3 linked regions of the Homo sapiens genome follow. The protein of the gene in region 3 interacts with the protein of the main gene of each other region in a pairwise test. Each region holds a gene or a part of one and is shown on either strand. Other genes may lie near its edges.

Region 1 (10,762 bases), on a different chromosome or scaffold from region 3:
CACAGACCTGCAGCCCTCACTGAGGGAAAGGCCTTCCCCCAGGCTCCTGCATGGCGATGTGCTGCACGGACACGCATGCCCACAGTGTCCACTCCAGGCTCTCCCGACAGCCCTCCCTGACCCCACCCCTCGCCAGCTCCCTTCTATCTCTCTCCTCCCTCTTCAACCATCAAACTCTTTGAAAGAGCTGTCTATACATGCTGTCTCCACGTCCTCACCTCCAGCTCGCTTCTCAACCCACTCCAAACTGGCTTCCATTCCCACCAAGTCACTCATTCATTCATTCAACAAGAACCTGTCTGTACTGGGCCCTACATTCTGCGGGCGCTGAGTGGAGTTTCTCCTACCAAGGTCACCAGCACCCTCACCATGGCTCGATCTAATGGACACTTCTTTTTAAATTATTCATTCTTTTTCTATCTATCCATGAACTTCTGAGAATGCACCTTAAGTCTCTCAGCAGAAAGAAACAGGGCACTTTCCCTCCCCCCGAGCAGGGCACTCTCCTTGCCTTCTGCAGCGCCTCCTACTCCTGGCTTTCCTCCTACCTCTCTGGCTGCTCCTTTTCAGCCTTCTCTGCAGACTTCTCCTGCTTTGATGGTTGGAGTATTTCTGGGCTCCTGACTCAGCCCCCTTCCTTCTTACCCTCTACACCACGTTAGAATCACCTGGGTGCTTCCAAAACTCCCGATGCCCAGGCCTCATCCCAGGGTCAAATGAATTAGCATGTCTAGGGCTGGAGCCTGAGCATAGGTATTTTTACTTAAAGCTTTCCAAGTGATGCTAATGTCACCAGGAGTGAGAACCCCAGGTCTGCACTCTCGCTGGGCAATCTAACTCAGTGCCACATCTCCAATGACCAACCTCTGCTGAAAGCTCTAAGTTTCCATTTCCAGCCCAGATCTCCATCCTGAACATACTTCCTACCTGGACCCTTCCCTCCAACTACCTTCTGGATGTCAGCATCTGTCCCTGGAAGTACAACAGGTTCAAATCAGAACCATGAAACATCTGTCACTTTTCCTTTGCTCTTCATCAAGCTTGCCAACCCAAATTTAACTTGCCCATTCTTCTTCTCATGGTGCGCCAGGGGGCAGCACACCTCACTTAGTGAGACATTGGAGGTGGGGAATGGGAGAGCAGCATGTCACTTGACAGAGAAGGAAGATGGGACACCATAAGTTCTATTACCTGTGGTAAGCTGCCAGTCGCCTCTCCTTCAATGGAAAGACTTTGCATGGCACCCATGGTCTGAGCTGGGGAGGTGGTATAGTACACAGCAGATATTGACACTTGGGCTCAAACCCAAGTTCTGCTACTTAGAAAATGTGACGGTGTGCAACTATTTAACCTTTCTGGACCACCAGTTTCACCATCTGCAAAACGGCCATTATGATGGTCCCTACCTCTAGGGTTGATGCAAGGATTCAGTGAGATTAACCGTATAAAGCGCTTAGTGCCATGCCTGGCCTGCAGAAAGCACTCAGTGAATGTTAGCTATTTTTAGTAACATTACTGAGGATAAATTCCCAATTCCTGAGCAGAGCTCACAAGGGCCCCCGTGACTGTGACCTTGGCTTTAACTCCGCTCTTCTCTTCCTCACACCATGGGGCCCAACGAATCACTCAACTAATAATTGTGCTGTTTCACTTTTCTGTCTTTTGTACATACTGGTCCTGACAGCTAGACTGCACTGTCCTTGCCTGGAAAACTCCTATTCACCCTTCAAAACCCAGTGTGGAAGGTTATTTTTGTTAGAATAAGATTCTTGACTATTCCGGCCAAAGGTAACCACCTCTCCTGTGAATGGGCTCTGGGGACACACTTCTACCACTGCACACCCTTCCAATAACCTTCCCAAGAGTGAGCATAAGCCAGCCTCCTCTGAACAGAACACAAACTGCAATTTGCCACTGTCCCTGGCTGCCCTCAGGACTCCCTTCTCTTTGGATTGCCTGGGCACCAGCCTCCGCTCTTCTCCCATCCCCAGCTGTCTCTGGTGCTTCCCACTAGTCCTCCAAGCCCAATCTTCATGCTGAGTGAGTCAATACTAGAATTTTTCCAGAGGAGCTTTGATCAACACACAGAGAGGGAGCCGAGCACCTTGGAGCACAGCAGCTGCCCTTGCCACATTGGGCTGAATGCTGGCTCTTGGCACCCCAGGGCCAGTTCCCCTTCTGCTCAGATCCTCCTGGCTCAGTTCTAGGCTTATTTGCCCCACAGAAAGTAGATCTCAAGGTGTCTTCACATTGCGTGGTGCCCCCAATCCACTGATTCTCTAGATGACATTGAATAAGTCCTTGAGCTCCTCTGGGCCTCAGTTTCCCCACTTGTATGATATGGTAGTGATGACATGATTAAAAGTTTAATGAGGCTCTTTTCAGCACAGAGCTGGACACTGTAACATAGAATCTGTGTTCCACACCCTGGCTGTCACCTGACCTCACCCTCTCCATGCTCCTGCAACAGCAGCCTGACCACCCTCATTCCACCTCGCACTCATTACCACCGATTCATATGCACCTGCCCAATTCTAACTGAGTGGAGATGAGGTCAAACAGATGGAGTTGAGGGCAGCGGCAATGGCCTGGGCCCCCAGTAGCTGGGGCCTCTGCTGCTCACGGTCCCACTAGATCCTGAAGGATGGTGGGAACCTGGGAGAGGGCTTGGGATGCCATGGCATGGTGGGGGTCACGTGGTTTGCCATCTGGATGATACTGCCTAGGCTCACTGGGAGACACACCTGGGGTCTCAGCAGGAGGCGAGCAGATGCCTGGGAATGGAACATAGGCCCAGGACCTTAAGAGGAGATAGATCCCATGGCCCGGGGCTGGGCTGAAGGCACTGAGGAGCACAAGAGTGAGTCCTGCACTATCTTAGCCATGGCATCCTGATCTGGCTGTGCTCTGCTCTCCAACAGGTGTTTGCAAGGCAGGCCTACAGCCAGGGACTTGTCCCCAACATCATTTCCCCCCATCCTCATCACCACCACTAACAGTCCCCACACCTCTGGCCCCCACCAGCTCTTGGCCTCTCGGACAAAGCTTGGCACCTCCACTTTCTTCCAGAGCGCCACCAAAGACGATCAAATAACACAGAGGTCGAGAGCCACCTCCCATCAGGGTGCGTGGATCTGTTCCGGCTCAGAGAGAGGAGGGCAGAGAACTCTCTCCAATCTCACCGCAAAGAGATCTCCACCCCTTCGAGAAGCACAGAGATCAGACAGAGGAGATGCGGCCCCTTTAGGGCGTCAAAGGGCACCGAGATCTCTACATGGTCTAAACGCGCAGAGATCTCGTCCCACAGAGAGGACAGCCCCAGCGGACGGTTCCCCCTGGGCCCAGAGAAAGGGGGTGCGTGGCTTCCTCCCCCATATCCAGCCCTGCTCGGTCAGCCCCCGCAAACCCCGCTCTCTGGAACCACATTCATGGCGCGCCTAGTCGCCGCTCTGACCTTGGGGTCTCCGGCCTCCGGTATCCGGGTCCCAATCCCAGACCCTCCCCGAGCCTGCGCCAGGGATGGCCGGGAAGCTGGGGCCGCAGCTCCCCCTCCCCCGGCCCTCGACAGCGCACCGGGAAACCCGGAAGGAAAGGGAAGGGAAGGGGGGCGCACGGTGTTTAGAGACGTCTCCCCCGGGGATACCCTCCAGCCGGGCGGATCTGCGCCCCTTCTCCCCCTCCGGCTCTCTGGGGCACTGATCGGGGAGGGAGCGGCTGGGCGGACCCGGGGCAGGGAGGAGCACGCAGGGACTGGAGGCTTCGGCCCTCGGGGAGGAAAGTTGGGCGGCGGCAGGCGGAGGGGGCTCCGGCCGGGCCAGGGCTGCCGGGCGCGGGGGCACTCGCTCACCTGCTGGTCCCCCGGCCGGGCCCCGGGGTGGGCGGCTGCTGCTTGGCGCGGACTCGGCTCGGCGCGGGGCTCGGGGCACTGGGCGCAGGCTCAGCGGCCCCGGGGGAGCGATCCCTGCATCCTACGGGCGCCGCCGCCGTCTCGGCTCCGCGGCTCTGTTCGGGCTCCCGGGCTGGGCAGGCGGCGCGGGCTCGGGCTGGGGGCGGGGTCGGGGGCGGGGTCGGGGCGGGCCCCGCCTGGGTTCGGCCTGGGGCTTGGGGCCCCGGGCTGGCTCCGCCCCAGAGCGACGCGCCCAGGGCTCCGCACGTGGTGCTCCGCCCGCTCGGAGGGGGGACACACCAGCGCCCGCCGGGGCGCACACTCCCACACTGACCCGGGGGCTCACAGCCACAGACAGCCGCACACGCGGCCGCGGACAGACAGACATAGGCGGGGGTACACACACGGCGACCCGGCGACGCTTCACCACAGATGGCCACCCACGCGGACGCGGACAGGCTCACATTAACAAACACTGGCATACACACCAGCACCCGCCAGAGTATACACACACACACACGCAACCTTGCTGACTTGGGAAGGCTACCAGACACCCACCCACCCACGTGGACACGGGCATACACTGACACTCATGCCGAGACAGACACACGCTGCCATAGGCATACCTGCACTGACACAGACACACACATGCACCCTGAGACAGATACACACCCCCACACACCCACACAGACACAGACAGACACATCATTGACACACACTGACACTGAGGAAGACACTCTGACAAACTTAGACACCCACATGACTTAGACACACATCCACTGACACACTGACACAGAGACACACACACTCACTCGAACCACACTTTCCTGGAGACACACTTAGTGATGCCACAGAAATCTGCACAATGGTACACATCTACCTGAACACACGGACGCACATGCTGACAGAACCAAACACACACCCAGACCCAGAAGCAAGCAGGCAACCAACACAGAGACACCCACACACGCGCGCGCGCAAACACACACACACACATACATATATATACATGTATATACCTCTTTATATATATACTTCCACCCTCTTGAGCCACATACAACCTTCACCTTGACACATGCAGAGCCTGGAGTCACATACTTACACACCCACTGTTTCTCACTCAGAGACATGGTCACAGGCACACACACACGGAGACATACGCTGACAAACAGTTGCTCCCATGCCCATGCCCAGGACCTATGGGGACACACTTCTTGTTTAAACAAAACAGGCCATCAGGGCAACCCGCTTGGGTCCCCTTCCACGCTGTGGAAGCTTTGTTCTTTCCCTCTTCACAATAAATCTTGCGCTTCTAAAAACAAAAACAAAAACAAAACAAAACAACAACAAAAAACAGGCCATCAGCTTTTGCCCACGAAAAAAGTACAGTCATTGGAAGGGATGGTACACTTTTCTGCCACATTTTCAGGGCTCCCAAAAGCAAGAACCGCTCTTAGAGAGCCAAATGGGTGCCAGGGTCTCAGAGGGCACAGAGGTGCTGGGTTTGGGAGCCCAGAGGCTGGGACCTGCTCCTCCATGATGGGGATCTTGAAGAGGTGGGAGGGCAAAGAGGGGGGTGGGGGACAGCGTCCGTTTGCGACCTGGGTGTGGGGCTTCGTTGGACGCCTTAGGTACATACGGAGGGGCTGCTCTGCTTGCAGGAGGGGATCAGTAGGAAAGTCAGTCCACAGGAAAGTTCAGGACATGGGCCTCTCCGGCCCCGAGTTGAGTGGGGTGTCTGGGGTACAGACGGATGGACCACACAGGTCGGCTGCCAGCCTTTAGCGCCTGACGAGCCTCAGGTTGGCTAGCAGCTCCCACTATCGGCCAGAAGGGGAAGTGCAGGCAGTGTCAACGTTTCAACCCACGTGCAGCCGCCTTCCCAGAGTCACACCTACCAGGCAGGAGAGTACAGTAGCAGGAAGGTCCTACCTCCCCTAAGAACTTCCATCACGGGCTTCTCGGCCTCAGAATGAAGCTTCTACTTGCAAACTGACATTGGGTCAAGCAGGAGACAAGGCTAGGATAGAAGCTGCTGGGAGTAGGGGTGGATACCTGCCTCCCTTCCGTCCATATGTAGCAGAAGTGGGGTTTTCACTCTCCTGTTTAGTATTGGGCAACTGGATGTTGCCAGCAGGAGAGGTGGGCTGAGCCTGGTAAGTCTACATGCACCCTGAATTTAAACAGGGGGAGAGAAGCCCAGGGGATGGGGAACCAGAGCTCTGAACCTGTAGAAGTTCATCCATAAAAGCACACCTTGTGGTCCTAGAGAGGCCTCAGAGTGCAGAGACAGGCAACAGGTGTCTGGAGACAGGCACTTCCTACAAAGAGCCCTTGCCAAGATCTTGGCTACTCCCTTCTCTTTGCCAGACCCTATTTAAATTTTTTGTTTTGTTTTGTTTTGTTTTGTTTGAGACGGAGTCTTGCATTGCCTCCAGGGCTGAAGTGCAGTGGCGTGATCTCGGCTCACTGCAACCTCCGCCTCCCCAGTTCAAGCAATCCTCCTGCCTCAGCCTCCTGAGTCTCTGGGATTGCAGGTGCTCGTCACCATGCCCAGCTAATTTTTTGTATTTTTAGTAGAGACGGGGTTTCACCATGTTGGCCAGGCTGGTCTCGAACTCCTGACCTCGTGATTTACCCACCTCGGCCTCCCAAAGTGCTGGGATTACAGGCGTGAGCCACCATGTCTGGCCAACCCTATTTAATTAAAGCAATAACAGGAACATGTTGTCAGCTGTCAGAGATAAATGTTTTTAAAAACTAGTATGTCCTTTATTCGCCCCTCAGTTTCGCCCAGGGTTTGCCTTTACTTTGCCTCAGGTTCAAAGCTGGGTTAACCATATCATTACTCCTCTCTTGTGTTTTTGTTTTATTTCTTCCCCCATCATCACTCCACTGCCATCTCCTTCTCCACACAGGCACCCCTCTAGGAGCTAAAGTAGGTCTTTATGTGCACATCCTTGTAAAACAGGTAGTATTGTTGTTTGTGCATATGCATTTTCTCTTCTAACAGCCCAAAGCTTTTCTTTTTATGTTTTACTTCCATTGAACCTACATAATGGAAAACTGCACAAATCCTAAGTGTTCACTTGAAAGGGTTTTCTGTTGTTGAACACATCCGTGTGAGCAGCACAACACAGAAACCAAACGTTATCAGTACCACAGAAGACCTCTTTGTGCCCCTTTCTGTCACCACCGCTACACCCACCCAGAGTTAACTACTACAGTCACATCGAATTCCCCTTGCTAGTTTTGCCTGGTTTTGATATTTATTTAAACTGGAATTGTATAATAGGAGCTCTTTTGTGTCTGGCTTCTTTTGATCAGCTTTACGCTCATGAGAGTCACATGTTGCTGCTTGTTGTTGTAGTTCATTCATTCTTGTTGCTGTACAGCATCCTATTGTATGCATATACCAGACTTTACCCATTCTACTGCTGATGGGTGTTTGGGTAGTTTCTAGTTTGGGGTTCATGAGTAGCACACCTATGAACATTCTAGTACATAAATTTTGATGAACATATGTACCCATTTCTGCCAGGTACATATTTGGGAGTGGAATTGCTGAGTCATAGGATAATGTGTGTTCGCTTTTAGCAGATGTTGCCAGACAGTTTTCCACAGTGGTTCCACCAGTATTCACTCCACCAGCAGTGAATGCATGCATCCTTTAACACTTAATACTTTTGTCATTTTCATTTTATCTCCTTCAGTGGGTGTGCAGAGGTTTCATATTCTGGTTTTAATTGGCATTTCCCTGATGACTAATGAAATTGAGCACATTTTTTATGATTAATGGCTGTTGGTGTGTATGTGCTTTTCATTTATATAAATGGGTATCGTTCTAGATTTCCTTCTTTTCCTTATGTTTCTCCCTCAACACCCTGCTTTTGAGCTGTATCTGTGTTGTGGTGTAGGCAGCTGGCTCTTTGCTTCTGATAGCTGCAGAATGTTCTGTGTTCTGCATCCACAGCACTTTATTAATCCATTCCCCTTGAGGTGAGAGATTGAAGAAGGTAAATGGCTGGAAGAGTAGTAACTGTCTTGTGTTTCTGTTTTCTTCACTGTGCTAATTCCAGGGGTGGAGGTGGACAAAGAAGCAAGTGGGGTCTCGGATCCATAAACAGTCAGGACCAGGAGGCATCTTAGATGGTGGAGGTGCAGGTTGGGGCTGAGAACAGGAGGCCTGGGGGAAAGGCCACACAAAAGCCAGCAGACCCAGAAACGCCTTGCCCAGCCCTCCCCAGCAGAGGCTGGTCCTGCCTCATGCAGATGGCTATCTGTGAGCTCTAGATGGAGGGCATCTGGCACAGTGGAGGCAGGCTTGAGGAGCCTTACTGAAAGTAAGAGGGTCTAGTGAGAACCCTGGTTTCCTCCTTCTGCTGGGCGCTGGAACTCTGACTCTTATGTGCACTTCCCACTAGGCAGGGGGCTGGGGAATTTCACATTGAGACACTGACCAGCCCAAGAGAAAACATCTCTGATACTGGGCACTGACATTACCATCTATACTGCCCACTTGTCAAGAAACTCTGCCTGCTCCGCATTCATCCCCACCCCTCTTTCTCCTTGCCTGCCTCTTCCATGAAGGCTGTAAGAGGCAAACAGTATTTGCCTTTCCAGTTTTTCCTATACCCAGTGGCGGCCATGTAACTTAATGAGGGCCAAGGGTCAGAAGCAAACTTCTGCTAGGGAAGGGCAGTTTCTGAGAGAGCATTTGTTTTCCTGGTAAAAGAGGACAAGAGCTGCTGGCTCTACTGTCTTCCTCTTCTTGATTCTCCCTGCCTTGAATGAGGACATAATGCTTGGCGCTTACAAAACCTCTCTCAGCCTTGAAGGTAAGGCTGGGAGATTTGCAGAAACATTGGCCTTGATGACAGTGAACCATAGAACTAATACCTTTGTACTTCTCTTTCATGCTCTTTTTTTTGAGACGAGTCTTGCTCTGTCGCCCAGGCTGGAGTGCAGTGGCGCGATCTCGGCTCACTGCAACCTCTGCCTCCCAGGTTCAAGCAATTCTCCTGCCTCAGTCTCCTGAGTAGCTGGGATTACAGGCACGTGCCACCATGCCCAGCTAATTTTTGGATTTTTAGTAAAGACAGGGTTTAGTGTGTTGGCCAGGCTGGTCTCTAACTCCTGACCTCGTGATCCAACTGCCTCAGCCTCCCAAAGTGCTGGGATTACAGGCGTGAGCCACCGCGCCTGGCCTTCTCTTTCACTCTTTGTTTAAACAAATAAGACAGGATTCTCTGCCACCCGCAGCCAGATTGTGTTGGGTGAGGAGGGGCCTGGTAGCTCAGTTACTCCAAATACAAACTATTTACTAGCTCTGGTGTTTTTAACCTCACTCTTCCTCCCCATTTTTGAAGGTACCCAATGCCTGGAGTCCTGAGAACTTTCCAGGGTTTTGAAGAGAGTGGCTATCCCTTGCTTTCTTTTGCCAGCTTTCCCTCTGCAGACACACTCTGCTCTGGCAGTTATGGCTCAAACTTGCAGGAAGTTGTCATCATATCCGCTGTTGGCCCCTCTTCTGTACATTTTGTCCTTTTACAATTATTTCACTGTCGGCTGGGGACTGTGGCTCATGCTTGTAATCCCAGCACTTTGGGAGGCCGAGGCGGGCGGATCACCTGAGGTCAGGAGTTCGAGACCAGCCTAGCCAATATGGTGAAACCCGTCTCTACTAAAAATACAAAAATTAGCCAGGTGTGGTGGTAGGTGCCTGGAATCCCAGCTACTCGGGAAGCTGAGGCAGGACAATCACTTGAATCTGGGAGGCAGAAGTTGCAGTGAGCCGAGATCGTGCCACTGCACTCCAGCCTGGGTGACAGAATGAGACTCTGTCTCAAAACAAACAAACAAAAAAAAATTATTTCACTGTCATTTTAGTGACGTTTCAATAGATGTCTTCCACTATATTTTGAAGAAAGTCCTCCATTTCAGTTTCTACCCCAGGTATTTTTAAGTAGTAATCAGATACTACCCTCATGGGTTGTGAGCATTCTTGCTTTATTTTGAAGGCATGAGCAGTTGAGACCCTCTATCTTAGAAGGGGCAGAGAAAAAAAATAAATGTATTCATGGTCAAGGCCATGATCTGCTGCCAAAGGGCTGGTGACCCAATCCTGCCTTTATACCTAGACAATGGACAGGGTAATGCTCTTAATTGAGGGACCATTCCCATGTGGGAAGCACCTGCTGTCTCTTACATGTACCCTCAGCCCAAGTCAGACACACATGCCCTCGCCTCTGCCAGTGGCCCCACTAGCTCAAATAATGCCTGCCTGCAAATCTGCAAATGAGGATGAGCCGCCCCTTCCTCAAGACACTTGACTGCCATCTGCTGGAAAGTTGAGAGAAAATAGAAATCTCTGATGAGTAGGAATGTGCATCGTACTCCAGGTTGTGTGAAGCATGACGGTGCATGGCATCGGCCCCTGCCTCCACCCGTCTCATCTCCTTGCTACAAAATGCAGTCCCTCACCCATCAGCTCTGGCCATTGTAGTGACTAGGGAGCAGGGCTTGGAGGGCCAGAAGCCTTGATAGGATTCTTCACTTATAGCCCATGTGACCTTGTATTAAACACATAACGCTTCTGGGTCTTACTTTACTCATATATAAAATGAGATAATTCTATACTTACCTAGCTGAGTTGTTAAGAGGAGCAAATGAAATAGTATGGGAAGATGTTTTAAAAATAAATATTTTACAGATTGAATTTGACAGTCATACTATCTAAAGCCTATTCATCCTTTGCTTTTGATTGGGCTCCCTAAAAACCCTAAAAACAGACTCTAAAATGGAGATTTGCACTCAGGAAGTTTCTTTGGAGTTCACTTGAAAATAATATTTGTAAGGATGTGAGGGAAGCAGGAT
Region 2 (9,977 bases), on a different chromosome or scaffold from region 3:
TTCTATATGTGTATTGGCTATTTCTCTATCTTTTGTGAAATATCCGGTTAGATCTTATTTCCATTTTAATCGTCTTGAGTTGTAAGAGTTCTTAATATATTCTGGCTACAAGTTCTTTGTCAGATACATATATCAAGGTGAATATTTTGGTAAAAACAAGTAGCGAAATGTAGGAAGGATATATACCAAAGTGATTATCCCTAAGTATAATAAAAGTCCATTCTTTTACTTCCTTCCTTTTGGTTATCAATTTTCTGATTTTTCACATTTAACATACATCATTTTTATAATTAAAAAAATAATTAGTTTTAAAATACAAAAGGGTCTTGCCTCTGAAGGAAAACAAGGAAAAGTGGTATAGCTAAAGAACAGTACAAGGTCAGGAAAAGGTATTTTTAAAGATAAGGGATTAGAGTATTTTTATAGGCCAATGGAAAGGAGCAGTAGAATAAAAGAATAGCCTTTTAATTCCTTAACACCGTTGTAGAAGTAGCTGATGATATGTGTTGACACTAGAATAAGCAACATATAGGTTAGTAGGGCAGTGGGTAAACACGGGAGTTCTAAATTTCTTTAGAAGGTAAGATCTCAGAGATGTTTAGGAACTGACTTAAAAGTGGGAATAGGGAGAAAATCTCTAATACGGAAAATTATTATTGAGCTGACTCAGTGTATTTTGTATACCCTTGGTACATTTTTAATCCAGAATTATCTTCCCATCCTCAGAGTTTCTTCAGCTGTCAAAAGGTGTATGATCAAGACTACAAATTTCATTTAAAATTAATGTAGACTTAATAAACTTTAAAAGGGAAAATACCCTCTTTTAAAAACAACTTTTAGTTACCCACAGTCTTAAATCCTGGGTCTTAAAGCCTTAAAGCCTTGTCCATTGTAAGATTTTAGTTGAGTTCTTGAAGAAGATAATATTTGCTGTGCCGTCCTGTTTATACATATGGAACTCTACAATTAGAAATATAATTTTCTAAGTACCAAAACCTGAGGACAGACTGGTTTTGGTACTGTCATTGCTTTGATCCACTTGCTGTGGTAAAATTAATTAATCCCAAAATTATCATCTCTTGGGTTTCATAGGAAAATTACTGATAAAATGATTTAAAATAGCCATAAAAGGTATAGAATTACTGGGTTCCTGTATTATGAATTACCTTTTTTTTTTTGAGAAAGTCTCATTCCATCATCCAGGCTGGAATGCAGTGGCGCCATCTCAGCTCACTGCAACCTCTACCTCCTGGGTTCAAGCCATTCTCATGCCTCAGCCTCTTGAGTAGCTGGAATTACAGGCACACGCCACCACGCCTGGCTAATTTTTGTATTTTTAGTAGAGACAGTATTTTGCCATGTTGGCCAGGCTGGTCTCGAACTCCTGACCTCAAGTGATCTGCCTGCTTTGGCTTCCCAAAGTGCTGGGATTACTGGTGTGAGCCATTGTATCTGGCCTGTTTTAAGATTTTCTTAATCAGTCTTTGAAGCACCATAAATAGTAGGTGCCATTCTAAAGATAAGGAAACAGGCTAAAAAAATTTATAACCAAGGGGAGTTTATCCTAGGAAGACAAAGATTTCTCGACTGTGGGAAATTTAATGTAATCCATTATATTATGGTGATTGTTCCATTACACTCATATAAATTCATCTTGTTAGACTGTCAGTCTTTTTTTTTAATTATATAAAAAAATTTATAAAATAGAGACAGGGTCTCACTGTGTTGCCCAGGCTGGTCTCAAACTCCTGGGCTTAAGCAATCCGCTTGCCTCAGCCTCTCAAAGTGCTGGGATTACAGGTGTGAGCCACTGCACCCAGCCTGACTATAACTCTTTAAGTTGTCATCTCTGATTTTAAATAGTCACATAAATGATTTAAAAACTATAAAATAGCAAGGTAACTGTTAGGACAGTTTTTCTTTTCTTATGTAATTATTATTAATGAATTTTATGGTATGTTGGGTGAAACGTTCAAGATGGAAGTATTTTGTCTATAGGCGTAAGTACCAAAATATTATTTAGTGTTTTTTTAATAAGAAATACTGTTGTTTTATCCATAATAACAAGATTGAAAACTCTAATAATTCTTTTTAGTGATTTTATTTCTTACAAGTATTTTTATTATTTTAATTTGTACTTAAAAAATATGACCCTGCATACAGGTGCTACTGATACTTCCTATAATCTAGGAAGAATAATCTTTATTTTTGTTTCTTAGGTACAAACTGTTTTGAAGCCAGTTCATCATAAGGAAGGACAAGAACTAACTGCTTTGCTGAATACTCCACATATTCAGGTAGAAAATGGACAGAATACTATATATGTGGTTTTTCCAGCATTCTTCTATTTTTTTAAATCAAAGACTCCAGTACTGGAAGAGATGTCAAACATTCTCTAGCCTATTTTGATGTTTACAACCCCATCTATAACATAGTAGTTATTGTTGGATTATATATTTTCAGATTTAAAATGAACCAAATTATTTTTGAAACAACTTTTTCTTTAAAAATTAGGCAAAAATTCTTCCCCCCTTTGGTTGTATTTTCTGTAAGTTTAATTATCTAGGGTGTGTAGACCTTTACATTGATGTTATCTTCCGAAGTTTAGTAAGCATTTTAGACTTTCATAACCCATTCCAGAGTATGCCCTTAGTATACTTAACACATCTTTATTATTAGCTCTAATTAATTATAACACTTTTAAAGATTTAATGGTCAGAATACTATGTACATAGGTTAAAAATCACTCTGCAGAAATAAATCATGCTGTTACTTAAAATGCCATGGATTTCTTTGAAACAGGCACTTTTACTGGCCCACGATAAGGTTGCTGAGCAGGAAATGCAGCTAGAGCCCATTACAGATGAGAGAGTTTATGAAAGTATTGGCCAGTATGGAGGAGAAACTGTAAAAATAGTTCGTATAGAAAAGGCTCGTGATATTCCGTTGGTAAGTGTCCCACATACTGTTTTTAAACAAGTGCATTTTTCTGCTGTTGTGTGCTTCAAAAGTCTGGTTAATTTCAGAATTCTAATGAATAGAGTATTTCTGAAGCAGAAAGTGTGGGGGAAATGGTCAACTTTTAAATCTAATTACAATTACTCTAGTTGTGTAAATAAATTTTTTCTTAAGATAACTGAAGGTTAGTATTGTTGAATGGAAAAAATAGAATTTAAAAATAAATGCTTAACAAAAATTGTATTATTTTTATTTTTAAATTATACATATATATATTTTTAGGGTGCTACAGTTCGTAATGAAATGGACTCTGTCATCATTAGCCGGATAGTAAAAGGGGGTGCTGCAGAGAAAAGTGGTCTGTTGCATGAAGGAGATGAAGTTCTAGAGATTAATGGCATTGAAATTCGGGGGAAAGATGTCAATGAGGTTTTTGACTTGTTGGTAAGTTGACGCAGCTAGAAGAATAATTGATAGCTTTTAGAAAGCTCTTATTAGACTTTAGAATAAAATATTTTTAAAATAACTGTTAAGAGCACTAGATGATTTCTAGCCTGATTTTTCCATGATGTAACTGTTCCACAGTATTTGTTAGCAGTTTTATTTTTGGGTGGTACCACTGATATTTTTTTACTTTCTGATGTATCACTATCACATATATTTTATTTTTCTGGAATCAGTAATATAACTCATTAATTCACTCAGTACATATTTATTGAGTGCCTAATATGCACTAGCCACTTGGGAAACAGTAACAAAACAAAGTCTGTGTCCTGATGATTTTTTGTGTTCTTTTATTTTATTATCTGTAATTGATTGTTGTTTTCCTAATAATATTAGATAATAACAGTGCTATAGATCTGCAGTGTCCGGCATAATAATCACTAGCTGCATATAGCTATTTCTGTTTAAATTAAGTAAAATTTAAAATTCAGTTCCTTATTCGCACTAGCTGCATTTCAAGTGCTGAGAAGCAGTATGTAGCTAATGGCTACCATTATTAAGATACAGAAATAGCACATTTCCATCATTGGAGAAAGTTCTATTGGATAGTGCTAGTATAATCAGAAAATCATTTCTAGACATCTTTTGAGTGCAATTTATGATCACTTTGTACACACGCACAGACTAGATTTATGGTCCTAGTTATTCAGCATCTGTTATTACAGTGGAATCTGTACTATCTACTGATTCTGTTGTAAAATCTAGAGACATCTTCACACACTTATTTTCATCCAGCCCCATTCATTGCTTTGGTAGAGCAAAGTGCTGCTGGTCATTTAAGTCTGTGGAGGGGTTCTGAAATAGTCCAGTTTAGGGAATATAGATCATAAAATCATGGAATGATTTTCATAAATGCAAATTTAAAAAATAACCTGATCTTTCTATTACAGTCTGATATGCATGGTACTTTGACTTTTGTCCTGATTCCCAGTCAACAGATCAAGCCGCCTCCTGCCAAGGAAACAGTAGTAAGTGATTTTTAAATGTTCATTATTTATGTGTTTGTGGATGCTGTTTACTTCTGTTACTGTTTACTGTTACAGAAATGTCACTGTTTCCTGTACTCAAATAAATTCAATCATTTTTATTTAAATAAATATGAAATATCAATGTTTTAAATTAGTAAACTCTGCACCTTTTTTTTTGGAAGGTGGAAGATGGAATCTCCATCTGTTGCCCAGGGTAGAGTGCAGTGGTGTGATCTTGGCTCACTGCAACCTATGCCTTCCAGGTTCAAATGATTCTCCCACCTCAGCCTCTTGAGTAGCTGGGATTCCAGGCGCATGCCACCACACCCAGCTGATTTTTGTATTTTTGGTAGAGACAGGGTTTTGCCATGTTGGCCAGGCTGATCTTGAACGCCTGGCTTCATGTGATCTGCCTGCCTCGGCCTCCCAAAGTGCTGGGATTACAGGTGTGAGCCTTCACATCCAGCCAACTCTGCACCTTTTTAAAATAAAAAGTAGAAAATAATTTCAGTTTCAGAATTTTTTTTATAGTTATAGGTGGGTTTACTTAACTTAGTATGGAGTAGGGCAAGTGCTTTTTAAAAAGTATGTGTAACCCTTCTTTTAGAGTATATTGTTCTGTTAGACATTTACTCAGCTAGATCTGTTAAAAGTCAGTCTCCATTACCATACAGTCAAGCAATTGCATTCCAAAGTATATATCCAAAAGGACTGAAAACATATATTCACATAAGAATGTCTACATGAATGTTCATAGCAGCAGCATTCACAGTAGCTAGAAAGTAGTAACAACCCAAATGTCTGTCAGGTGATGAATCAAAGACAAAATATGTATGTATGATGGGATATTATTTGATAATTTTAAAAGCCTACAGTACTGATATATGCTACAACATGGATGAACCTTGAAGAAATTATGCTGAGCGAAGGAAGCCAGTCACAAAAGGCCATATATTGGTTCATTTATATAAAATGTCCAGAATAGGTAAATCCATAGGAGAGAAAGCAGATTAGTAATTCCTTAGATGTGGAGATGAGGATTTATGAGGGAATGGTGATTACTAATCAGTACCAAGTTTCTTTTTGAGGGCATAAGTATGTTTTAAAATTGTTTGTGGTGATAATTGTACAAATCTGTGAATAAACTAAAACCATCCAATTGTGTACATGAGTGAATTGTATATGAATTATATATCAATAAAGCTATTTAAAAATGAAACTTTAAAGTGTTGAATTAACATGGAAGCTTGATGTATTGCATCTGTTATTCTTAACTTTAAAGCATAGCAGTTTGAGAAAGAACACAGTTTCATTTTTCTCTCAATATTTCATCACAGGTATGCTTTATAGTTTGGCTATCATTCCATGTTTTCCCTTAATTTTTTACAGAACATACGGAAGTTGATATTGTATCTGCAACCTACTTTATGTTTACAGTTTTTTTGCAGGAAGAGAAATGAGGAAATATAGTTTGTCTTTGAATTTAAACAGCTTGATTCTCTGTGCATTGTGCTGTTCCCTGTATCTCTTCTGTGTATAAGCCCTGAACTTCAAAAGTAGCTCTGCAAACTGAGGAAACATAACAGAGGAGGGTTGGAATATACTCCTACTTACTTATCTACAATAATCCATCCCTCCTGAGTAAATGACTTTTGTCTTTTGAGAATAAATGTCAGAAGTTAAGACATTTTTTTTTTTTGAGGTGGGATCTGGCTCTATTATCCAGGCTGGAGTGCAGTGATGTGATCACGACTCCTGCAGCCTTGACTGCCTGGGCTCAAGCAGTCCTCCTACCTCAGCCTCCCTAGTAGCTGGAAACACAGATGCATACTACCACATCCGGCTAATTTTTTTGTACTTTTGGTAGAGATGGCTTTCACTATGTTGCCCAGGCTAGTCTCGAACTCCTGAGCTCAAGTGGTCCACCCGCCTCGGCCTCCCGAAGTGTTGGGATTACAGACGTGAGCCACAATGCCCAGCCAAGACATGTTTTCTCAACATTTTTTTCCTGCTATTCATGCAGAATCTGGAATTCTGTAAAAGAAAAGCCATTTTTTTCATGGATAGAATTAATCGAAGTGTTACATTGAAACTTGTTGATTCTCGTTGTATGCAAAACAGAATATCAAAGCAATTAACTTACACAGATTGTTTCAACCTAAGAATGAAATAACTTACTTATCCTTTAGTGGTTATTTAACCCCCAACTTTCATTATTGATTAAGAATAAAAGGCTGGTTTAATCTGAAGACCAAAGGAATATAGGTTCATGGTGAACAATCTCTGGAACTACTTAACTGGAAAATGAAGTAGCTTAAAAAGGAAGAAAGTGGGAGAAAGAGCAAAATGCCACATCTATCCCTTTTAAAATGGAGCTTTTTCTGTTCTTTTTACTTGGAGTCTCACTCTTGTCACCGAGGCAAGCAGTGGCACCATCTGGGCTCACTGCAACCTCCGCCTCCCAGAGTCAAGCAGTTCTCCTGCTTCAGCCTCCCTAGTAGCTGAGACTACAAGTGCATGCCACCACATCCAGCTAATTTTTGTATTTTTAGCAGAGATGGGGTTTCACTATGTTGGCCATGCTGGTCTCGAACTCCTGACCTCAGGTGATCTGCCCGCCTTGGCCTCCCAAAGTGCTGGGATTACAGGCATGAGCCACCGAACCCGGCCTATTTTCATATTTAAAGTAGGGATCTTTTCAGAATAGAGTGATGTGCAGTATTTTTCTTTTCCTTCTTTTCTCTTTTGTTTTTTGTTTTTTTTGAGACAGAGTCTTGCTCTGTCGCCCAGGCTGGAGTACAGTGGTGCGATCTTGGCTCACTGTAACCTCTGCCTCCTGTGTTCAAGCATTCTCCTGACTCAGCCTCCCAAGTAGCTGGGATTACAGGCGCCCGCCACCATGCCTGGCTGAATTTGTGTGTGTGTGTGTGTGTGTGTTTGTGTATTTTTAGTAGAGACAGAGTTTCACCATGTTGGCCAGGCTGGTCTTGAACTCCTGACCTCTGATGATCCGCCCACCTTGGCCTCCCAAGTGCTGGGATTACAGGCATGAGCCACCATGCCCAGCCCCTTCTTTTCTCTTTTTATTATGAATAACTCTCAATTGCAATATATCTTGCCAAGTTTTGTCAGACCTAACTGGCTTAAAATGAACTGCTATTATTAAAGCTCATTGAGGCTGTCCAGAAAGGAAACAGTAATAGGAAATCATAATCTTGGTTGACATATGCAGAATAATTATCTATGGAATTAATAATCTAAAGAAATTAGAACCAATTTATTGAGTATCATTATGGTACAGGTCAGCATCTGTTGATAGCAGCAGCAGCAGATATCTTCCTGATTTATGTTTTGTGATGTTAGAAATGTGTTTAAGACAGATATACAAAATAAGTGTTATCTGAAACCCCTATATAATGACTTGTTGAATTATGATGTCATGTATGGCAATAATAAGCTGTGTCAGAAGTGCTCTCTTGAGTTCTTAAATTTCTTTTGTATCACACATAGCAATCAGTGGCTGCTCTTTCAGTAGCAGAGGGCAAGAGTCTTGGCACCTCTGTATTTCACTTCCTGAGTAACTGGCACATTTGATCTAGGAAATGCATACATTATTCAAACGTACAGTTTCCTTCTCTCGGCCTTTTTAAAAAAAGGAAGGATTGGATTTCCCAGACTAGTTTGTAAAACTTTAGATTATTCTATACTATAATAATATGTAGGGAGGGCATAATAGACTTTTATCTGAATGGGACTTTTTCATTTAGTCTAATGCCATAATCTAACAAGGAGTGTATTTAAATGAAGAAGGATCACATCGCTTATTAGTTACAGAATATGTACCAGAAAATTAACAGATTATTGATTGTTTAATACATATAAGCTATTATTATGATTATGTACTCTGTGCCAGGCACTACAGAGATAACTGTGTTGTAAAGAAAAGTTGAGAACCACTGCTATCAAATACATTGCTTTCCCATTATAGGTATAAAAATGTATTAATAAAGACATTTATTTCTTGGTGGATGTGGGGAAAGGAGAAATTCTAGTGTTGTGTGGAGATACTTAAAAACTTGCTTGGTGCTATAAAGGCTTTCCTTGACTCACTTTCACTATTTTCTCTTCTACAATGAACTTTAAGAGTTAAAGATAAATCTGCGATAGTAAGAGATACAGAAATAAAAATTACAAAGAAAAATATTTTGGTAGCAGAGATGTGGAATCAACCTAAATGCCCATCGATGATAGATTCGATAAAGAAAATGTGGTATATATACACCATGGAATACGAATGCAGCCATAAAAAAATGAGATCATATCCTTTGCAGGGACATGGATGGAGTTGGAGGCCATTGTCCTTAGCAAACTAACACAGGAACAGAAAACCAAAAACCACATGTTCTCTTACATGTGGGAGCTAAATGATGAGAACACGTGGACACATAAAGGGGAACAACACACACTAGGGTCTTTCAGAGGGTAGAGGGCAGGGGGAGGGAGAGGATCAGGAAAAGTAACTAATGGGTACTAGGCTTAATACCTGGGTGATGAAATAATCTGTACAACAAACCCCCAACACACAAGTTTACCTATGTAACAAACCTGCAGTTGGATCCCTGAACTTAACAGTTTAAAAAAAAAAAAAGTCAGTGTAAAAAGTATAAAAGCCAACCTAATACTTAGACAATAGAAAAGGGAAAAACCAAACTTCCTTTTTTTTTTTTTTCTTTTTTTTCTCTTTGATTTTGAGGGCGTCACCAATGTGATAGCCTTACCTTCATGAGTACTAACCTTTCCATTAAGCTAATCCCAAAGTTGTCTCCCAAGTACACTGTCCAGGTGGTTGTGGCAAATTTATACTTTTCCAAAGGAGTGTCCATTGAGCAAGTGGAATATAGATCCTGAGTTTTAGATCAGCACTCTCCAAATATTTTTTTCTTTTTCTTTTTTTTTTTTTTTTGGAGACAGAGTTTCACTCTGTTGTCCAGGCTGGAGTGCAATGGTGCCATCTTGGCTCACTGCAACCTCCGCCTCCTGGGTTCAAGTGATTCTCCCGCCTCAGCCTCCCAAGTAGCTGGGATTACAGCTACCCTGTACCGTGTACAAGTACCATCTACTGTGCCACCAGCTAATTTTGTTTTATACCTTTATCAATTAAAAAACATTGAACATGTCCCCTCCCATATTGTATATATATGTACTACTCTACTTACTATCCCAAATTACAATATAGGACAAGTTTTATTAATAAGTAATTCTAATAGCCTTCTTGATTGGTTGAAAAACAATATTTTGGAACATTGGATCCCTAAAAAACATGTAAATAAACTGATGAATCATTATCCCTGTACCCTATCCCCATTTCATCATTACGACTTCAAATGTGAACAGCTTATAGATATTAAAAAAAGGAAAAAGAAAATGTTGGGCTGGAAGATAATTGCGTCCAAACAGTTCTACAATTTGAAATGTAAACAGAAGATTTTGTTTTGTTCAGAAGCCAAATACTGTTTTGATCAGATATACTGTTCTGATATTATTATA
Region 3 (10,775 bases):
CAGTGATTTCCTGGTCAGTCCATACTTAGAGACCACTGCCACTGGCTGAGTACAAGAAGAAAGTTTGTCTTCTGGAGCTGGGGTCCAAATAAAAACAAGAGGAAAAGTAAATTTATAAAATGGAGGCCAATAAGCACGATATTTAGGACACTTGATTCTAATGTTCTATGTGATTGTTTTTATAATAACACGATTCGGTGCCATCATCAAATGATGTTCACCCAAATGTCGAGTGAATGTTGGTAACTCCCAGAGTTGATACTCAGAATCTTGACAGTGGAGGGTCACCTTTTTCATTAACACTAATGCGGATTATTGCAAAATAACAGGCCATGCACTGATCTAGGTTTCAAGTCCAGAGAAGTGAATGACATGCAGTTTCTTTACAAAGTATAACAGATAAAACAGAATTAAAACTTAGCAGTTTAGCAGTTAGCAGACTGTGAAGTTTAATAGTTTTTGCACTAAAAATATAACTTTACATTTTACAAATGTTTAGAACAGTATCCCCTAAATAAGAAGCATACTCACTTTCTTAAATCCAAAGTCTTTGCTAAATTAAAATGTAGCTAGTTTATAATCATATTTATAGGATGTAAAAATGTAGACTCCTTAAAAAGCAAACTATTTTAACATGTAATTCTAATTGCAAAATCACATCCTCATATTCACAGCATTGTTAACAGTATTTATTAAAATGTGCAAGGGGAGAAAACAGGAAGGTTCAGGCTGATGGGGTGAAGAAGCAGCACGGTCCCTGGAAGGCAGCCAGAAATGGGTGAGCTTTTGGAGGGCCTTCTTGTTCAGAGGGGCAGGGGATGAAGAGCCACAGGCTGGGGTCAGTCCTCAGGTGAGGGATTACACCCACATAGGGGAGCTTAGCATTTAATACAGAAATAGGAAGGATAACCTCGGCTTCCTGAATTTTACAGGGAACTTTAGTATGGACTGGGGGAAAGTGACATCTAGTGTTAGCTGAAAATAATCCAAAGTCGACTATTCAAAACTACAGTCATGACAACATGCGGTAACCAGCTGGACAACAATGACAAGTACACACCAGTTCAAGGTCCATTTTCCATTAAATCCTGAGTGCATTTTTCCTCCAAAAGCATGTTTTCCACCTTCCTTGTTGTGTCTCACTCAACAAAAATACCTCTAGAACTAATTAAAGAGTGAGTTTCTGAGGGATTTGGAATCAGATACAAAGTGACCTTCGGAACCCAAGCACACATTCCACAGGTGAGAAGCCAGAGCCAGAGAGGATGGTGGTTCCCGAAGCCGGGGTTCTCTGAGTTCCCTGGAACCCTGATCTCCCTCCTTCCTTCTCCATTTCCACGAGCACCTGCCTGTGTCCGCCCCATGCCCAGCAGCGCAGGAGCTAGGGGTGCGCAGCAGAGCCTGAGAGCAGCTCCTCTTTGGGGTCCCTCGTGTGCCTGCTGTCACATGCTACATGAGCTAACAGGAAAGCCAGAAAATCACACTGCTTAGTAAGTCTATCCTGAATATACCCATTTAGTAAATAGGAGGCCTGCGATGCAAACACACCCTCTGTCACCGAGAACTGCAATGCCAGCCCCTCTGCCAACTCACTCAGAGCCTCATGGGGTATCTTGAGAAGCAGATCTAAATTAAAACTGAAGCTTAAATGCCTTGTCTACAGTCATCATCCATAAAGATATCCAGAGACAAGAAGCTGTTGCTCCACATACACCATTCAGAAAACAAGGCAATTTTAACATCCCATGTTGGAAAAAAACAAAAACAAAAACAAGGCACACTTTTCTTAATTGGACCTCATTCAAATATTTACTGGGGAACATGTCTCCATGTCTCCTGGTAAAGTCAGGTAACTGCCTGCTTTGTAATGCATGGATTTTGCTTATGATGTCATAGACGTCAATAGAAATTCTACAGTTGAAATTAAAGATGAGTCAGCAAGGATGAGAAACATAACCAAAGCATAGAAGGAATGGGGAACCTTCTTAGGAGCTCAGATGCTTCATTCATCTCATGCAGCAATTCACATCTGTAAACAGATGATTAGGTGGTGCCCTTACCCCACATGCACCTTTAAAATGACCTAACGTGCTTTCCCCCTTCAGTGGGCAAGCTCATCACATAAATGGGCATGTTCCCGGCTCATGCCAATAATTCTTCCAGCGCCCCAGACTGAAGAAGTGTTGTCATTTAAAAGCAGCAAATGTGCTGTAAACATCAACCAATAGTAGTCTTTGAAGCTACAAGCAAGACACACTTCGCACATTGTACTGAGGTTGTCTGCCAGTGGGATTTTACCCCTCAAATCCAGGTATGGTCAGAGACAGAGCTCCATGAACTCACTTAACTTAGAAAAAAACATCGGGAACAGGCACTTGAAAGGGGAAACAAAACAGGTCTGTTACCGAACAGGAGACCTTCAAACGTGGCCAAATTCCATGATTCAAACAAGCAGTCATGATAAAGAATGTGTATAGTTTTGACTTCAGATAGAAAAAATATAACTAGAAATATAAGATTTAGAAAAGACTTTCATCTTTTTCTAGTTAAAAGCACCAAGTTCTCTTAACTGAAATGATTAAATAATTACACAAGTTGAATAATATTGTGCAGTTATGGTAAGAAAATAATTCTGCCATTAAGTAAGGATGACATTGTATACTAAGAACATTCATGTTTTCAAGACAAACCTGCCAACACCAATACTTAACAGATTCGTTTTAAATACATAAGAATCTGAGCTAACATGACCATGCACTGGTGTCTAAGGTAGGCTTAGCACATACCTAATTACTTATGACTGCAAAGTTAGGAGTCTTGCTCTTAAAATGCTCCATCTTATTGTAATACTTGGCCTCCAACGCTAAAAAAAAAGTTTCTTTCAATACAATTCAGACAGGCTGTTTCAAATAATCAAGGTCCTTATTAGAAAGAAAGCGCCAATCACATCTTGTAGCAAACAGGTGAGCAGAGGCCACTCTTGACTGGAAAACATCAAATTTAGCACCTTAATTAATACTGAGCGCAAAGGAGAGCATTTACTAGAATACGCGCAGTTGCTTTATTTGTTGACGTTATTGCCAATAACTCATCAAGTGGGTCAATCATGAAGTATGATGAATCCACTTCAACGCTTCCGCTATAATTACAATGATTAAAAGCAAGAATTGCTTTGCTCGAATGTCTGGAGAAAAATGCACAATCCCTAACCGTGGGAGGGCATCATTATAAAGCTGAAGGCAGTGACCAGACGGAAAGCCTGTGATTCCACAGCGCCTGCAGTTTTTACTGCGGTTTATTTCCAGGTAATCCCCGCATATTTTCTCGGGTTTGATTACCATGGGCAACAGTGGGATAGCTATTCATATTACAAAGTACTTCAAGAAACGAACACCCACATTTTACATGAAATTTAATTTTCATATTTTGTAGTAAAAGCCCAGAAAGGTGCTACTTGAATGAAGATGCACCTGTCTCTACATAGAAATCTTTTTAACATCACAGTAGCGACGACCACAGTCCTAGTTTAGAATCATTATTATGACGATAGGAATTTGTAGCAGCCCTCAACCCGTGGCCTTCTGAACCGTCTCTCCACTGTCCTATAAGGGAGGGCTAACTGTATTCCTGGTCGCTCCTGGGACTGGGAGCTCCTGGGGAAGGAATCCTAAAGGAGTGGTTGTCAATGCATTTTCATTAACAGCCGCGCTTCTCGGCAGCCTCCTAGGGCTGGGGTGGCCACGTGCTCCCTTAAACTGTTTTCACAACTCGAGGCTGTGCTGTGGGTGGCAACTTGAAGGTTTCCAAGAACTTTTCGTTTTTCTTTGGGCCAACATTTCTGTTTTCTGTCAATCAATAGTTTAGTTATTTAAAAATAAGAAGGTGAAGAGGGAGTTATTTAGGGTGGGAACCAGAATAGACTTCAAAAAAGAAATCCGTATTACCCAGTTGGCGTCCCAGCGGTTCCCCGAATGGCCTAGAGCCCCCAGCACCTGCCGAGGCCGCGCCATGCACCTGGCTGGGCTCAAACTGGCCAACTCAGACCTGGCCTGGGCGCCCGAAGGCTGCAGGGGGGACGCTCCGGTCCGAGCCACCGCCTGGGCCCGAAAGAGCCGCTCCTGGGAAGCAATGCCGGGCCAATCTCAAATCCCAAATTCTGGAAAGCACTACTTCCCACGCAGTAAAGGGAAGCCCGGGCGCCTCAAAACCAAACCTTGGAAGACGCTGGAGGAGCAAAGCCTGCAAGTTTCCAGTAAGACACTGGGCTGGAGGGAGCAGAGCGGCCAGGGGGCGGGTGCCCACTGCGTCCCGGGGCTCCGGCGCCCACCCTCCGGCCAGCCGTCCCCGGAGACAGGGAAGGGGTCGCGGGGAGCGAGGGGGCGTGGAGGGAGGAGGGGCGGGGGGAGAAGGGCGCGAAGGAGAGGGAAGGGGGGCCGGAGGTGAAGGGGCGCTGAGGGGCCGCACTCACCCGCGCAGGTACCAGCAGGCAGCCCTGGCGTCCGCGGGAGGCGGCCGGGGGCGGGGGTCCCTCGGTGCCCATCGCCGCCCCTGCGGCTGGGTCCGCGCTCCGGGCCGGCCGAGCTCAACGCCAGGACCCCGTCCGAGCCTCCCAGGGCCCCGCCAGGCGCCGCGTCCGCGCCCGCGCCCCTCTGCCGGCTCCGGCTCGGGCTCCACCGGGGCGCAGGGCTGGGGAACCGGAGCTCCGCCCGCCGACCCGGAGCACCGCCCACGCAGACCCGCCCCGGGCGAGGGAGGGGCCGGGCGCGCACCCGCGGGGAGGGCGGCGAGCGGGGATCAGCCGAAGTCGGGAGAGGGGCGCTTCCACGGGGCGGGAAACTGGCGCGCGACTCTGGGGGAAGTGCAGGATGGGGGGACAGGGGCGCTCCCGCGGGGGTGGATGGGGGACCATAGCGGGGCTGGCGGGGCAGGGGCCGGCGCACGAGGCTGGAGGAGGGGAGCGCGCGCTTCTACCCGGGCTGGGTCGCCGAGGTCCGCGGCGCATCGTGGCGGCGGTGGGCGGAGGGGGGCGGGGGGCACCTCTTCTCCCTTGTGGCGCAGGTGGGCGCGCTCTGGACCGGCTTGACGACCCCTCCCCGCCGCCCCACCTCCCTGGCCAAAGGTTCTCAGCTTCTAATCAGGGACATTTCTAGTCCACAGCCTCGAAGCCATGGGTTCTCCCCGGCCCTCTGAAGCCGCCACACCTGTGCCAGCCGGCCGCGTCCTCAGACCTTTCCCCGCGGAGTCTTCCCAGCACTTGGAGACGCAGCGCAGGGCCCCGAGGACGGCCTGGCCCGGAGAAAAGATACCGAAGCTCCAACTTTCCCCAACCCCGCTCCCCTCCTCCTTCCACCCTCCCTTCCCGCCCCCAAAGCTCGGGGGTCCTATCCCTCCTCCGGTCCGCGGAGTCTCCCGAACCCTGCGGGGACCCGGCGCTCGGCGGTGCCCTCCTGGGGCGCACGGGGCTGGGGCGGGAGCGAGGAGACCAGGTGGGGAGGGGACCCCAGATCTCAGACGCCAGGGGAGACGGCGTTTCCCGCTGTTCATTCAGGTTTGTGCCAAAAGGAGCCTCACAGATGCAGTATTGGGTTTGGTAGACTCAAATCGTCTTGTTTTAATGTAAATGAAAGTAAGTTTAGGATAAATTCCAGTGCGGCGGGGGCAGGCAAGGCTACCCACATTTTTTAAAAAGAAGCCAGCCCGTATTTTTCTCCCTTTCCAAATCCTCCGCCCCCCAGTCCTTCGACCCAGGCACGAGCGCCCATCGCGGAGGCCACGATGCCCGTTTTATTCCCTCTCCACGGCAAGGAAAAGCAGCGAAATCTGAGGTCTTCAGAGGTTAACCCTATCTAGGAGCAGAATGTGACGCATTGTAAACAAATAAATATTGAAAACTCGATGTTAAACACTTTACTTTTTCTGACTCCGACTTGCTTGACCCCTGAGCAGACCTGGGTTTCGAACACAGACGCCCTTCCCCATTTCTCTATTCTCTGTATTCCTGTTTCACCTTCACGGCAGTCTGCCAGCACTTCTTAGCACTCAGTTTAACCAGAGGACAAGCTCTTGAATAGCAAAAACCAGGTCTTTTTATACGTGGCACAGTGGCTGTTACAAAATATGCTTCTTGGGTGAATTGGTAAAAAATATTGTATTACTTTTTATTTGTAGCAAAACCTAGAATAAGAAAAAGTACAAGAGATTATTGTTTGCCTTTAAATTGCATTTTTAAAAGAGCGTGCATATAATCTCTGAGAAATTAAATGTCTACAAATAGCACAAAGATATTGTCTCATTACCTTGCAAAGGGACATTCTATTCCAGGGCCTGAAGAAGGAAAAACAGCGTGTTGCATGCATAAATGTTGACTTTGAGAGACAAGTTTTTGTTAAAATTTTATCGTTAAATGAATAGACACATATATTTTTGTTTTTCAGACCAAAGGTAATTGTTAATTCATTTGTAAAATAATGTAGTTTTGGCTAACAATCTCTGGAATCCTTTCTATAATAAAATTTTGTGATTCCAGGACGTCGTAGGCGCTCTGGGGCTGCTTTTGAAAGGCTAATTAATTCAAGTTTTAACTGCCTATCTGCTTTTATGCATCTGTGTCAGGACTGCACGTAAGGGTTATTTTGCTTATTTTAAATACTAGGGTTCTACTGCAATAACAATAACAATAAAAAGTAAAACCCTGACTATCCTGAAACTCTGCGAGGGAATGTCCCCCATGAGGTTACCAAAATTCAACTTTCTGGTTTTTGTGATGAGTATAGCTTTGATTCTGAGATGTGTCTAAAACCAGTTGCAGTTAGTGTCTCTTTATTAACTTTTAACTTTGAAATAATTCTGAATTTACAGAAACTTTCTAAATGTAGTACAAAAAACTCCAGTAACCCCTCATCCTCATGGGTATGTTCCAAGACCCCCAGTGGCTGCCTGATACCGTGGATAGTACTGAACTATGTATGTGTGTATATATATGTATCAATTGCATGCATATATATATGTATCAATTGCATGCATATATATATATATATATATATGCATATATATGTATGCATCAATTGCTGACCAAACTGATGTATGTGGCCTAGACAAACTGGAAGATGCCCTGGTCAAAAGGCAGGAGCAATGAGGTTGTATTTCAAGGTAAAAATACAACCTTGAGGCCGGGCACAGTGCTTCACACCTGTAATCCCAGCAATTCGGGAGGCCAAGGCAGGTAGATTGCTTTGAGCTCAGGTGTTTGAGACCAGCCTGGGCAACATGGTAAAACCGCGTCTCTACAAAAAAATACAAAAATTAGCCAGGCATGGTGGCATGCACCTGTGGTCCCAGCTACTAGGGATGCTGAGGCTGGAGAATCCCTTGAACCCTGGAGGCGGAGGTTGCATTGAGCCGAGATCATGCCACTGCGCTCCAGCTTGGGCGACAGAGTGAGACCCGGTCTTAATAATAATACAACCTTGGCCTTGTCATTTTTATAGTCAACATATTCAGAATGGCCAGGTACATTGTCTGTTACTAATGAGACTTTATATTCCAACCTTCCCCCTTCCAAGGCTTTGGGAGGAAGTACTGGTGGAGCCCTTCCATAAACATGGTGGTTACCACTCATGCTTTCTGGTTATGTTGCCTGAACACAAGCAGGTAACGTTTGTTTTTTGAGCATAAGTGTTCCTCTGTGTGTGCAGCACACCTGGCTTGGCCACACGTCCTACAGCATTGCACACGGCACAGGGTAAATCAGCCCTTCAGTGTTTTATGCCCTGGGGCCTTCTTTGCCCTTTCAAGAACGTAGGTTCTGTTGGGTATCTTCTTCCAGAGGAGCCTGGTCTCACTGCAATTGAAGACTTGCTTTGGATGGCATCCTTTCCCTTTAATCAACTTCAACTCTGCCGGAAATATGGCAGCAGCTTCTTCACTGGCAAACACAGCCTCTCCAGTTTTTTGGTTTTTGGTTTTTGGTTTCGTGACAAGCCCACTCCTAAATCAGTGTAGCTATGCCTCACTTGCCATGAATGGCTCAGTGTCACTCACTTTGGGGGACTGACTGCTGAAGTCTTCCCATGGGATTGTGCTTTCTGCGCTGACGTGCCCTCGGTGGGAACACCTTTCCGCTCATGTCTTCTACCTACAAGTTCAGCGTCTTTTCCGTCTTAAATAGGCACTTATCACTCACTGCAGCCGTAACGTTTGCAGTTTGAAATGTGATAGCAAAACTAGCATGATTTCTTTTTTATTTTTATTTTTATTTTTATTTTTATTTTTTATTTTATTTATTTATTTTGAGATAGAGTCTCACTCTTGTCGCCTAGGCTGGAGTGCAGTGGCGCGATCTCGGCTCACTGCAAGCTCTACCTCGCTGGTTGAAACAATTCTCCTGCCTCAGCCTTCTGATTAGCTGTGATTACAGGCGCCCACTACCACGCCAGGCTGATTTTTTTGTATTTTTAGTAGAGATAGGGTTTCATCATGTTGGCCAGGCTGGTCTCAAATTCCAGACCTCAGGTGATCCGCCTGCCTCAGCCTCCCAAAGTGCTGGGATTACAGGCGTGAGCCACCATGCGCAGCTGGGTTTCATTTTCGAATTAACTTAAAATACTTTCTGGACTGACAGCCTTGTGGGAACATCCTTTATATTGCTTGATTTGCTAACTGAACCTATTCCCCCTCCAGGCATAGTCTTATTTCTGCAAGGAAGACCTATTACCTTCCTGTTTCACACTTGGTTACCATTCTGTAACTAGTTTTTCTGCCCCTAGAAGTTTCATTCTTACCACACTGGAAATCTTAGCAATTTCATCATACATTTTTTTCCTTTCCTTATTAAAGTGAGTACTTTCACTTTTTCACTTAAGGAAGCACTTTATGGCTTCTCTTTGCCCTAGTCTTGTGTTTGGGGCCAATACTGAATAAATTAAGCAAGACTTGAACAGAAGCACTGTGCTACCTGGACAGTCAATTTATAACCCAGACAGCTACTAAGTGTCAGGATGTGTGGTGCACACAGTGAATTCATGGGACAGAGAAGGCGTGAGGATTCGCCATGCTTCTCAGAACAGGGCACAACTTCACTCTTATGAACTGAGAGGGCAACTTACATCCTGAGAGGCACAAAGGCGTCGGTGTGAGGATTTGCCATGCTTCTCAGGGCACAACTTCACTCTTATGAACTGTTTATTTCAGGAAATTTTTATTTAATATTTTCAGACTGCAGTTGACCACAGGCACCTGGGACCACAGAAAGTGAAACCGCACATAGCTGGGGCTGCTGTGCCCTTGATCTTTCACTCAAGTCCCAGGTAATACTCAGCTTCTCTCTATTTATATGCAGATTACTTTCCATGAAACCTGTTCAGAGTAATTTGCAGAAATAATGTGCCATTTCCATTAAGTACTTAACAAATGTTTCCTAAAAAAATCAAAAGCACTCTCACGCCTGCACAGAGTATATTCATCACTTCTATTCTGTACCGGTAGTGGAAGTCCTAGCCTAGCACTTAGGCAAAAGAAAGAAATAAAAGGCAACCACATTGGAAAGGAAGAATTCAAATTGTCCTTGCTTGCAGAGGAGTTGGTATTACATATAGAAAACCCTAAAGACTCCTTCAAAAAGTTGTTAGAACTAATTAATAAGCACATTCAGTGAGGTTGTAGAACACAAAGTCAACACACAAATATCTGTTGAGTTTCTATACATGAATAGTGGCTAATCTGAAAAAGAAATCAAGCTCATTTATAGTAGCTACAAAAAAAAAATGATACTTAGGCATCAATTTAACCAAGGAAGTGAAAGATCTCTGTGCTGAAAACTATAAAACGATGAAAGAAATCGAAGAGGACTCAAATAAATGAAAAGATATCTTGTATTTGTGGATTGGAAAAATTAATATTGTTAAAAAGTCCATATGACCCAAAGTGATCTACAGACTCAGTGCAATTCCTATCAAAATACCAATGTCATTCTTCCCAGAGATAGAAAAAAAAAATTCTAAAATTCCTGTGGAACCAAAAAAAGCCTAAGAGCCAAAGCAATCTTGAGGGAAACAAAAGCCCACGCTGAAATAAGAATTCAGCTGGACTTGTTTACCAAGACAACAGGTCACATGACTCCACTAATAAGACCAGAGACAGTAGAGAAACCAGCTAAAGCCAGCTAGAACCAAGATGGCAACAGAAATGACCTTTGGTCCTACTCAGTGCTTATTATTTCTCTAATTATAATGCATTAGCATATGAAAGCCATGCCCACCAGCACCATGGCAGTTTACAGATGCCATGGCAATGCCCGGAAGTTACCCTGTAAGGGGGAGAAACCCCAGTTCCAGGAGCTCCCCACCCCTTTCCCTGAAAACTCATGAATAACTCACCGCTTGTCTAACATATAATGAAGAAATCGCGCTAAGACAGCCAGCTAGAAGCAACCCTGGAAATACCCTCCTATAGTCTTGCCCTGCTCTGCCTGTGGAGTGGCTCCTTTTGTTCCTTTTTTTCCTTAATAAATTTGCTCTTGCTTTTCTCTGCCACTTCACTCTTGAGTTCTTTCCTGTGCTAAAGCAAGAACCCACTTGGCTTCCTAGGCTGAGCCCCAGTTTTGGAGATCACCCTGTGACAACACCACTTGACTTCAAAATATACCACAAAGCTATAGTAACTAAAACAGCATGGTATTGGTATAAAAACAAACATGCAGACCAAAGAAACAGAATAGAAAGCCCAGAAATAAATCCACACATCTACAATCAAGTAATTTTTGACAAAGACACCAAGAA

Evidence for each region.
Region 1: the proteins of SNTG2 (region 3) and SCN5A interact in a two-hybrid assay, tested with the Homo sapiens proteins (one study listed by IntAct).
Region 2: the proteins of SNTG2 (region 3) and PALS1 interact in binary tests that used the Homo sapiens proteins (3 or more experiments, as listed by UniProt).

The regions. Positions count from the first base shown.
Region 1 is NC_000003.12:38,645,684-38,656,445, forward strand, and holds the start of SCN5A (sodium channel protein type 5 subunit alpha), read right to left. Parts: upstream 4,005-10,762; 5' UTR 3,848-4,004; intron 1-3,847. UniProt on the Homo sapiens protein: Pore-forming subunit of Nav1.5, a voltage-gated sodium (Nav) channel that directly mediates the depolarizing phase of action potentials in excitable membranes.
Region 2 is NC_000014.9:67,299,170-67,309,146, forward strand, and holds part of PALS1 (protein PALS1), read left to right. Parts: intron 1-2,219; coding exon 2,220-2,297; intron 2,298-2,802; coding exon 2,803-2,949; intron 2,950-3,240; coding exon 3,241-3,402; intron 3,403-4,352; coding exon 4,353-4,430; intron 4,431-9,977. UniProt on the Homo sapiens protein: Plays a role in tight junction biogenesis and in the establishment of cell polarity in epithelial cells.
Region 3 is NC_000002.12:944,762-955,536, reverse strand, and holds the start of SNTG2 (gamma-2-syntrophin), read right to left. Parts: upstream 4,689-10,775; 5' UTR 4,541-4,688; coding exon 4,469-4,540; intron 4,253-4,468; exon of another isoform or gene 4,145-4,252; intron 1-4,144. UniProt on the Homo sapiens protein: Adapter protein that binds to and probably organizes the subcellular localization of a variety of proteins. May link various receptors to the actin cytoskeleton and the dystrophin glycoprotein complex.